Linked DNA regions of Homo sapiens: region 2 is linked to region 1. The links come from fine-mapping of genetic effects on gene expression. A gene starts in region 1. The other region holds a variant in brackets. All regions are shown on one strand. Distances are between the middles of the regions. Region 1 holds the start of CHCHD3 (coiled-coil-helix-coiled-coil-helix domain containing 3). Region 2 overlaps CHCHD3 (coiled-coil-helix-coiled-coil-helix domain containing 3).

Evidence for each region.
Region 2: its variant is fine-mapped to the expression of CHCHD3 in whole blood (TOPMed, PIP above 0.99).

Annotation. Positions count from the first base shown.
Region 1 is chr7:133,078,856-133,084,244 of GRCh38, forward strand. CHCHD3 (coiled-coil-helix-coiled-coil-helix domain containing 3) reads right to left here and starts at 3,235. Exons shown (of 8, transcript NM_017812.4): 1 at 3,002-3,235. The coding sequence starts at 3,082. It also overlaps the pseudogene RNU6-92P. RefSeq lists enhancers at 2,968-3,602, 3,018-3,197, 3,408-3,517.
Region 2 is chr7:133,043,476-133,048,864 of GRCh38, forward strand. All of the region lies in intron 2 of CHCHD3 (coiled-coil-helix-coiled-coil-helix domain containing 3), which reads right to left. Among named protein-coding and RNA genes, the nearest start is that of MIR3654, 11 kb to the left of the region's middle. RefSeq lists a silencer at 38-200. The variant G/T (reference allele first, on the strand shown) is at 3,096.

The DNA.
Region 1 (5,389 bases):
CGTTTTCTTCAGCCAAGCTGAACTAACCTAACTGCAGTTCAAAACTGAAGTTTGGTGCCTCATCGGCACCATGTTCTAACAAACTAAGCTAAAAACAATGGCTTATGGACATACTGAGAATGCGGTTTCTTATCCTTCCCCATGTCTCAGAAGGGAACAAAGTGACTATTTAAAGCCAAGAAAAATATAAAGAAATAAAAACCATCTACAACAGACCTAGACAAAAAAACACCCTCAATTAGGGCAGAATGTAAGACTCCCATTTCCCAGTCCATACCCTTTTAGGTACACCTGTTGGGGCACAACATGCTCTTATTTTTATTAAAATTTGAAGTTCACTTAAGTTCACATATCCATTCTTTTGAACAGCTCTAATAACAGCTATTATTCACAAGTGCAAACACTGTCAAAGTACAAGACACTGTGCTAGATATACATTATGTCAAATTCTCAAAGTAGGCTTTGTCCAGAAATACTAAATACGGAAACACAATGAAAAGTGACTTGTCCAGAGCGACACCGCTAGTGAGAGGCAGAGATAGAATCCAACCCAGGTCTGCTTGGTTCCAAGGCACATGCTCTTTCCACTACACAGCACAGCACTTTCAAAGAATCTTAAAACTTTGCATGTGAAAGGAACCCTATCATAATAATGGCTGCCTTTTTAATGAAAATCTACAATGTGCCAGGTGCTTTACATACCTTACCTCATCTTCTTACAATAACCAATCAAGGGAAGTGATGGTATTACCGTTTATGGATAAGGAAATAAAAGAAGTCAATTGTCAAAGGCCACAGGCTAATAAATAACTAACCTGCGATTTAAACTGATGTCTGCTTAATTCAAGCCAAGAAAAATACTAAGATCAACTGAAAAACATCTACAAAAGACCCAGACAAAAATCACACAGGCAATCAGGTTAAGTAATAAATATCTAACCTGAGATTTAAACTGAGGTCTGTTTAATTTCAAGTTGATACTCTTTTGATCATGAGCTCAAAGAAATCAGAATGACCTCTGTGTACTCAATACTTCAATGGATGTCACTTCTAGAGGAAACTGCAATGGGCTAAGTATGGCTACAAGAAACTTACAGTGCCACCAGACTCACAGGATTTCAGGACTGGAAAATATTAGAGATCTGAGGGATGTACTCAGTTGCATTATTTTGCAGATGGGAAAACTGAAGCTCAGAGAGATTGCAAAACATTCATGTAAAAGGAGGATTTGAAGCAATGGAGACCAGCGCAAGGGCATTCCAGGTGAAGGGTATATTCTGAAGAAAAGCATAGAGGTAAAAATGATCATGCTTGAACTGTTAGCAATACAGGTAAAATGTACTATATAAGAAAGGAAAAAAATGAGGAATGCTGTCAAGTTATATGACCAAAGGACATTTCTTTTTAAAAAACAAAAATCTTAAAAAGGTTTTTTAGACAATTTTTCCATTTTAATAGAATACCTATCCCTGCTGTCACAGTTATTCCATCCAACCTTATCTAATACTTGATATGAATCTCTGTGCTGTGGCCACATTCTCTTTCGATTTTGTTTGCTGTTAGCACTGTGTCTGTACTAAAGCACGAGAATATGGATTTATACATTTTTTTCTAACCAATGTCTTCTCACTCAAAACTTATTTTGCTTTGTCTTTTAATTATTTTTCACTCTGAGTTGCGTACTGAAAGCCTAATGGCAAGAGTCTTAAAATCTCTGCATAAAACTTAAAGTTTACAGTAATTTTTTACTCCAAAGAGTACTAACTGAAACACAATAACTCAAAGAATACAGCCTCAGATATTTTATTACAAAATGTAGTACTACCATTAATTAGCATGATATAAAGAAATACTGGTCACAGACCAAAAACTGAGTTCGACAGTCTGAGTTTCTATGAAGAAAAGTTTAATAAATTATTCTCAAGGTAACAGTTTCAGAAGAAAAAGTTTTTAAACATTTTAAATATTTAAGAAGTTTTATTTCCTGGTAACAACTGTTAAAAATAATTTACAAATGTAATTTATTTACGCTGGTTGATAACAGAAAAAAATATATAAATTATTATAAAACTTTCTGAAGTCAAAATTGCTTTATTTACTAGGTTCAGGCATCATACGTCCAAAAATGTGAGGCTCCAAATTCAGGCGCAGCGGAGAGTGTGTTAATGAAGTTAGTGCTGGTATACTGACACCCTAGAGAAAAACCAGGTTTTCAGTTTATGTATCAGGTGCATGCAAAGGGCATTAAAAAAAAAGTGCTCTACAACGTTGGTCAGAAATGACTACATTACTTCTACTGGTATGAAAAACTGCAAACCCATCTCAGCCCCTATCAGACTGGCAGACACTAGTCCTGAAGCAACTGGGCCTAATCCAAAACTTCGGCGCAGCAGGTCACAGAGGAGGCGCCTGGGAAAGAGGAGATATCAAGTGAAAGTGAAGCAGGGAGAAGCCAGAAGCCGCCCCAGGCAGGTCAGAAAAGACTGTGGGGCTGGGAGGGAGGATGACAGGGTGTGGGGAGTGGGTGGGAGGAGGGGGTGTTATCAGAGGGAGAGCACTAAATGACACAAAGCAAAGGCAATCCTTAAAATGCCAATTCACCCTGGGAGACAGGGTGTGCACAGTGGAAAAGCAGGGTTTGGGTCCTGAACCCAGGAAAACCATTTCACAGACAAGTACACCGAGGTATGGGTTTCAAATACGGTCCTGCAACAAGGGAGCAGTACAGTTACGAGTAGACTGTGAGCCCTTGCAGGGTATAATTCAACCTGGCATTCCCCGCCCGCCCCAGCAGTGCCTAGCACTTGGCACAACCAGGAACTATCTCTGAATGAATGTCCCACGTCTTGAAACTCTAGGCTTCTTCCCAGACACCTGGGCTTCTGGCCTTAATACGCTAGGGTCCAGGACGGGAGAAACCCAGGCTGAGCGGGTCCGGAGAAGATGGGGCCTTGGGGTCCGAGTCCAACCACTGGCCCTCCGCCCGTCCACGGGCACTCACCCGGATGCCCTTCACCACGGTGATGTTCTCATTCTCGTCCGCCTCGAAGGTGACCCGGCGGGTGCTGGTGGTCCCACCCATGATTCCGGTTCCTGCCCCAGCGGAGACCTAGCGGGGAACCACGAGCACTTCGGGGCCCCCGCACCCACACGCGCGTGGAAGGGCCTGGATTCTTTTCCCGCACAGCGGGAGCAAGGCCACGACCCCCAGAAGCAAGGAGAAGGCGCCGGTCCTGAGCTCCCGCCTCCTCCGGTCACGCGCCACAACAAAAACGCCTCAGGTTGGTCGGCGATGCGAACTGCCCGCCTCTGTTCGGCGAGGGCGCCCGGATTGGTTCACCCGACCCGGATGCTATGGCAACAGGTGGTGTTTGATAGCTTTCCGCGGAGTCCCTGGGTGTAGTGGGAACTGTGGTCTCGATCTGGCGCGGTGGGTGATGGGACATTCTCTCCCCGCGCCTGAGCGCGCTAAGGGAGCACGGCATTCTGGGAGTTGTGGTTTTGACTCCCCAGAGACGCCTAACTGGGCAACTTTTTGAAGACATAATTCTAGAAATTTAGGCCACTAAGTTCAGAGACACAATCTTTCTCTCAAAGGGACTCACAGTTTAATGAAAAAGATGCATGATACTAATGAAGCCATTCCTAGTGTTCTATACACAAATTCCTGGCTCAAAACTTAGCGTTTCATTACAGTCGTAGGGTAGCTTAATGAAGACTACTTCTGAGAAATGCCTCGTTAGGTGACCCTGTGATATCTGTGGTTGTGCAAACATCATAGAGTGTACTTACACAAACCCAGATGGTGTAGCCTACTACACACCTGGGCTACTTGGTGTAACCTATTGCTCCCAGGCTGCAAAGATGTACAGCATGTCACTGTACTAAATACTGTAGGCAATTGTAACACAGTGGTATTTGTGTGTACAAATATATGTAAACATAGAAAAGCTACAGCAAAAACAGTGTAAAAGTGATTGCTTTGGCAACACATCTAGGACAATTTGAACAATACAGAGATTAGCACAGCCCCTGAGCAAGGTTGACACATGAATTTCTGAAGCATTCCATTAAAAAAAAAATCAAAGATAAAAAATGGTATGCTTCTATAGGGCACTTACCATGAATGGAGCTTACAGGACTGGAAGTTGCCCTGAGTGAGTCAGTGAGTGAGTGGGGAGTTGAATGTGAAGGCCTGGGACGCAACTATGCAGTACTGTACCTTTTATCAACACTGTGCACTTAGGCAACACTAAATTTATTTTCATATATTTTCATTCTTCAAGAATAAATTGACCTTAGCTTACTGTAACTTTTTAAACTTATAAACTTCTTTTTTTGTGACTTTTTGACTCTTTAATAACACTTAGCTTAAAACACAAACACACTATATAGCTGTACAAAAATATTTCTTTCTTTATATACTTAGTCTATAAGCTTTTTCTATTTTTGAAATTATTTACTTTTTACTTTTTAAACATTTTTGTTAAAAATTAAGACAAACACACACACATTAGCCTAGACCTACACGGGGTCAGGATCATCAATATCACTGTCTTCCACCTTCACATCTTGTCCCACTGAAAGGTCTTCAGAGGCAATAACACGTATGGAGCTATCTCCTATGATAACAGCACCTTCTGTAACACCTCCTGAAGGACCTGCCTGAGGCTGTTTTACAGTTAACTTTTTTATATAGGTAGAAAGAATGCACTTTAACCTAAAGATAAAAAGCATAGTATAGTAAATACTAGGAGACAGGAATTTTCCAGCTCCATTATAATCTTATGATTCCACTGCCAGAAATGAGGTTCTTCTTTGACTGAAACACTGTTATGCAGTACATGAATGGTGGCATTTTAGTAGTAGCCATAAAATAAAAAAATAAAAAACGTAAACGTGTGTTTGGTCCATGTCTCTTGTCTCATGAACTAGTATCTGTATTTTTTTCTTTTTGTAAAGTAAAATTTTAAGTACTATGGTTTTCAAACCTGTCTATGAGAAAATACATTTCTTCATAGAATAAATTATTTGCACCAAGTATGTAGAGAATTTACTTTCCACTTTTGTGTCTCCTTCTACTACTAGTTCAGTTACATAAGTTAGGCCATAATAGGGTTAGGCAGAGAAAAGTTAAGTGATTGCCAAAGATGGCATAAATTAGTGGAGGAATTAAAACTACATCAGAAAAGTTGAGATGATCTATTGTGGAAAGTTCCTATTAATAGTTCAACATTTCACCTCTACGAGACCAGTACATAGTTATTAGGTTATTCATCTACATATTTCTTTTTTGCTAAACACACTGTTACACATAAGTTTAGCCATATGACCTTAGTTTTACAGAGGCAGATGATTCTCAATAGAAATTAGGTTAATGATGGTACTA
Region 2 (5,389 bases), 35 kb before region 1:
TACTAAAAATATAAAAATTAGCTGGGCGTGGTGGTGCATGCCTGTAGTCCCACCCAGCTACTCGGGAGGCTGAGGCAGGAGAATTGCTTGAACCCGGGAGGCGGAGGTAGCAGTGAGCCGAGATAGCGCCACTGCACTCCAGCCTGGGTGACCGGTTGAGACTCCATCTCAAAAAAAAAAAAAAAATAGACAAAATTCCCTTTCATGCTCTACTGTTCAGAATTCTCACATTTTGCACTTAGGGAAGTTAACTTATTTGATTTTAGAACTTTTGTGTTTTATTTATGACAGGATAAAAGATTTCAGGGTACTATTTGCAAATGCAAATAAAATTGGGGGAGGATAGTTTTTATTCCTAATAAATGAAGAGCAACCTTTCTAAGATTAAGTAGCAAAATATGAGACACACCCCAATGTGCTATATGAGCATTTTAGCAAATGAATACATTTTAGTAGTCTAGTGAAAAGCATCCTGACGCTAATTTTCAGAGGCATCATCACATTTATGATGCTCATTAACCTGCTTTTCAGCATCAGTGTCCCGTATGTTTCCAGATTTCTACCAATAATCTATTATGGGCATAAATTAAACACTGCATGACTATGAATAAAAAGTTTAAACTATGTAAATGTCTAATCACCATGGCAGGTAGCAGCATGTGTGATAAACCAACTGTGGATAAAGCAACTGAAGGGCTGAAACCCCTTTGCCTGATCTCTACTAACAATCACAAAACTCACTAGACATTTAAAGAAAATACTTAAATAATTGTTTTATTGGTTGATTTGTTAATAGAAATTAAAATGTTCTCCATTAGCGCTTTTAACAGCATGCGCTCTCCAAAACATTGTCATTTAAGTTCCCAGTTGGGAATGGTACAAAATACAAACCTAGGCAGACCTGTATTCTTTCAAACATTACCTATAATTGAATAAATGCTTACATTTTTAGGTTTTGTAAGTTTCCTGATAGGATGCAGCAAAATAAAAGTTAATGGGTGGGGAGAATAATTACCCCAAAATAATAACAATAATAATACAAGAAGTACTAAAGGAAAATAAAATACCATTCAATTTATAAGCCAAATTTAAAATAATCTGTCCTCAGATAATCAGAAGTTAATAGTATTCTCCAGCCCTATTGTAATCAAAAGACTGTTACAAAAATTCAGGCCAAAAGCTTTTGCAAGCTATTTTTGTGAAATACAAAAAGACTGTAAAGTGTTGGTAATGATTAGAAAGCCCAAGGCTGGAAAGAGTCAAGGGAGAGAATGTATATGGCAGAAGAGCAGTCCACTGGATGGGTCTGCAGGGCAGACTTGGGAGAGGGAATCCAGGAAGCTGCATGGAAGCTCACACAAATCTGCAGCTCTCCTCCCCAGGCGGGAGATGAGGCTGACAGCAGGGCTGAGGCACTGCCTCCCAAGTCCTGCAGCTCTGATCCAGGATGCTGGCCTGGGGAAAGCAACGCACATACTCACTGCATGATGCGGGGTTAGGGGAGCATGGCAACCCTGCTGAGCGGTAAATGTGCTCAGTCGTTTTTTTCCCCTCTACCTAAAGCTTTTCCTGTCAACAGCATCCGAGTTACTTAGTATCTCTGGAGCAACTCAGACAGAGGGGCTTAACAGTTTAGAAGAAACAGCTTATGATTCCCCACCTAAGAGAGGAAATAAAATGCATTTAAGTGAATGCCTCCCATTTAATTAACAAAAGAAAGAGTAGAACTAGATTTTAGGTAAGGATGGAAGCAACTACAATACACTTAAGCTGTCAGGCCTGACAACTGACGAAGAGGTTCAGACTCACCCAGTGAAAAGCAATAAAACAAACCTTTTCAGGCTTACACGACGCACAGGAGAGACATGCCATTTCAGTGCACTCTAACATTCTATTTCAGGTCCTGTCTCTGCTCTACCTACCAGTCATCACTAATGGAGAACTGAACTGAAACTCTCTATGACAGTCACCCTCATTAAAACAAATTGCCCAGAAGAAGCTGAAATATAGAAGGCAAAGGCTTTTTAATGAAGAAAATAACAAACTTCAATATGATCATTTTATCTTTAGGGGAGAGGTAGGCAGAGAACTGACTAGAACATTAAGAAACACAAATAATTTAAACTTATAGGTTCTAACCATTTTAAATTAAGTAAATTTTAATTTTTACCCTCCAGGATCTCGCAACATATGTATATGCTGATATAGTTTGGATCTGTGTCCCCGCCCAAATCTCATGTCAAATTGTAATCGCCAGTGTTGGAGGTGAGGCCTGATGGGAGGTGACTGGATCATGGGAGCTGATTTCCCTCTTGGTGCAATTCTTATAGTGAGTTCTCATGAGATCTAGTCGTTTAAAAGTGTGTGGCACCTCTCGCTGCCCCTCCTCCTCCTCCAGCCATGTGATGTACCCCCTTCCCTTTCATCTCCTGCCATGATTGTAAGTTTCCCAAAGCCTCCCCAGAAGCCAGCAGATACTGCCATGCAGAGTCATGAGCCTACAGACTGCAGACTCATGAGCCAATTAAACCTCTTTATCAGTCTCAGGTATTTCTTTATAGCAGTGCAAGAACTAATACTTAAGCCTGAATCTTACTTTTTTTAGTGAGGTCTTACATTGTTTGCATATATTTTTGCTTTTGTAATTGTTTATTCTGTTTTTTAAGAGCAGATCCAGCAGGTGGCATAAATGTTTATAAACATGAGAGACCGGTATAATCTGATGAAGTAGTTCTTAACCTGGGAATTCAAGAGATCTGTAAACTTGGATAGGAAAAAAAATGCATCTTTATTCTCACTAACTTCTAAATAAAGTATGCATTTCCTTCAAATATGAATGATACCCTAAAACCTAGTAGTATTAGCCACAGTACCTGTGATTTGTCACCAATAGAAATCACACATTTTCATAACACATTACAATAGTTTCAGACATTCCAAATATTCATGCTCATCACTACTTTGAAATAATAGTAGTTAATACACCCAACACCAGGTCATTTTATTTAATGTGCTAGTAAGTCAGTGTATATTACAAACTTGGGTTTTTTTAATTATATATAATTGGTTTCTTTTGTAATGCTATGTATTTTTTT[G/T]GGGGGGGGAGACGGAGTCTCCCTTCTGTCGCCCAGGCTGGAGTGCAGTGGCGCGATCTCGGCTCACTGCAAGCTCCAGCCTCCCAGGTTCATGCCATTCTCCCGCCTCAGCCTCCCGAGTAGCTGGGACTACAGGCGCCCGCCACCACACCCGGCTAATTTTTTGTGTTTTTTAGTAGAGACAGGGTTTCACCGTGTTAGCCAGGATGGTCTCAATCTCCTGACCTCGTGATCTGCCCGTCTCGGCCTCCCAAAGTTCTGGGATTACAGGCGTGAGCCACCGCACCCGGCCATATTTTTTGTATTTAAAAGTAAAATGGATCCACAGGCTTCACCAGAATGCCAAAGTGCAACTTGGCACAAAGCAGGTTAAGAACCTTTAATCCAGTAGAATGTACAGGTTTGGAGTGAAGACCCAAACTTACATCAGACATTGTTACCTGTGGTCTAGAGTAAATCACTTAATCTCTCATAGCCTCGGTTTCTTCGTTCACAAATGCTTCCACGAGCTGCTGGGATATGCTAATGTACAAAAGGGGACGAATCAAATGTTAGACAACACCAGATCATGGAAGCGATGCTAGAGTTAATAGCACATACACAGTCAATGGGACTTCTTTTTTTTTAAAGAATTTAACCCAAAAAATGTTTCAGAGGCAAGACAAAGGTAAAAGAGAACATTTCACAGTTTTATAATCCCAACTCTACAAAAAAGAGTACTGCCCTCAGAAAATTTTCATAAGACAATCCAAAAAGCCAAAATGACAACCCAGATATGAACCAATCAACTCATTATTTCACATAATCATCTACATTTCTGTCACTCAGGAAAAGCTACCCTGCCTGAATTAACAAGAAGAGAATATTAACAGTTGTATTTAAGATGCAAATGTGGTATATCCTTGAGCAAAAACGAGTCTCATGACTTTGTCCTTACCACAGAGGATAACACATTTATAAACTGTGTTGGAATGTTTTTGTTCAAATATGTTTTACGTGTTTCAACAATCACAGATCAAATTACAGGTGAAAAAAATCCAGTTTATTTGTCATTCTGAATTAAAAATAGTAAATGAATTGGCTACATTATGAAACTAATATCTCAGCTAATGCAGACAAAAAAAATCTTTAATCCTCAGAGATTGGAGGTAAAAAGGAAGAAAGGAGAGATACAGATAATCCCAAAAGTCAGACAGTGGCTTCAGTTTTGGACCCAGTAAAAAATACCTACTCAGGGCCAGGCGCGGTGGCTCATGCCTGTAATCCCAGCACTTTGGGAGGCGGAGGTGGGCAGATCACCAGAGGTCGGGAGTTCGAGACCAGCCTGACCAACATGGAGAAACTTCCGTCTCTACTAAAAATACAAAATTAGCCAAGTGTGGTGGCACATGCCTGTAATCCCAAGCTACTCGGGAGGCTGAGGCAGGAGAATCGCTTGAATGCGGGAGGTGGAGGGTGCGTGAGCTGAGATCACGCCATTGCACTCCAGGCTGGGCAACAAGAGCGAAACTCTGTCTCAAAAACAACAACGACAACAACAAAACTCCCTTAGGTCTGATCCTAGGTTAAATAAAAAAAAAAAAAATACCTACTCAGACAGAATCACTTACTTCGTGGAGACAGCCATGAGCTGTGGGGATAAAGTCAGCGGGGGAGGGAAAGCGTAGTTTATATCTGCTTATATCTGCTAGTACTCTGACACTGGGCTGGGAAAATAATATGCACATATAACTTGAAGTGACTACAAAACAACAATAATTTTAATCCATCATTGAGAACAATATAAAACAATAAAATATAACTATACAAAACTGAGTGCAGTAAGTGGCAAATTAAGAAGTAATCAGAGTTCCATAGGGATAGTCAGGATAGGCTTCCTGGAAGAGGCAGGATTTTTACTAATTCCAAAGATGAATCCGGCCTAATAGAGAAGTGAGGAGAAGGGTGACAAATAAGGGAGGGGTAAAGAGGCAGAAGGGAAGCAGGGATCATAGCAGCTAGTTTAGAAATAAACAAAAGGGACCACCATTCTAAATTAAGTCATCAAAATAGCTAGTCATAGACAATTGGAAAATCACTACCAAAGGGTAAGTGTAGGAAACTCCCCCCTAAAACAATTGAAAACCTCTCAGATACAATAATAATAGAGTGTTTGGAGAACAGCAGTAACATAGAAATGTATGTGCAAATACTCCCCCCAAGCGGGCCGCAAAAGATATATAAATCCACAAAGTGAGAGAGCAAGCACTTCGGGGTGTGTGAAAGCAAGAGGAAGCAGAGTTGAAGACATTCTG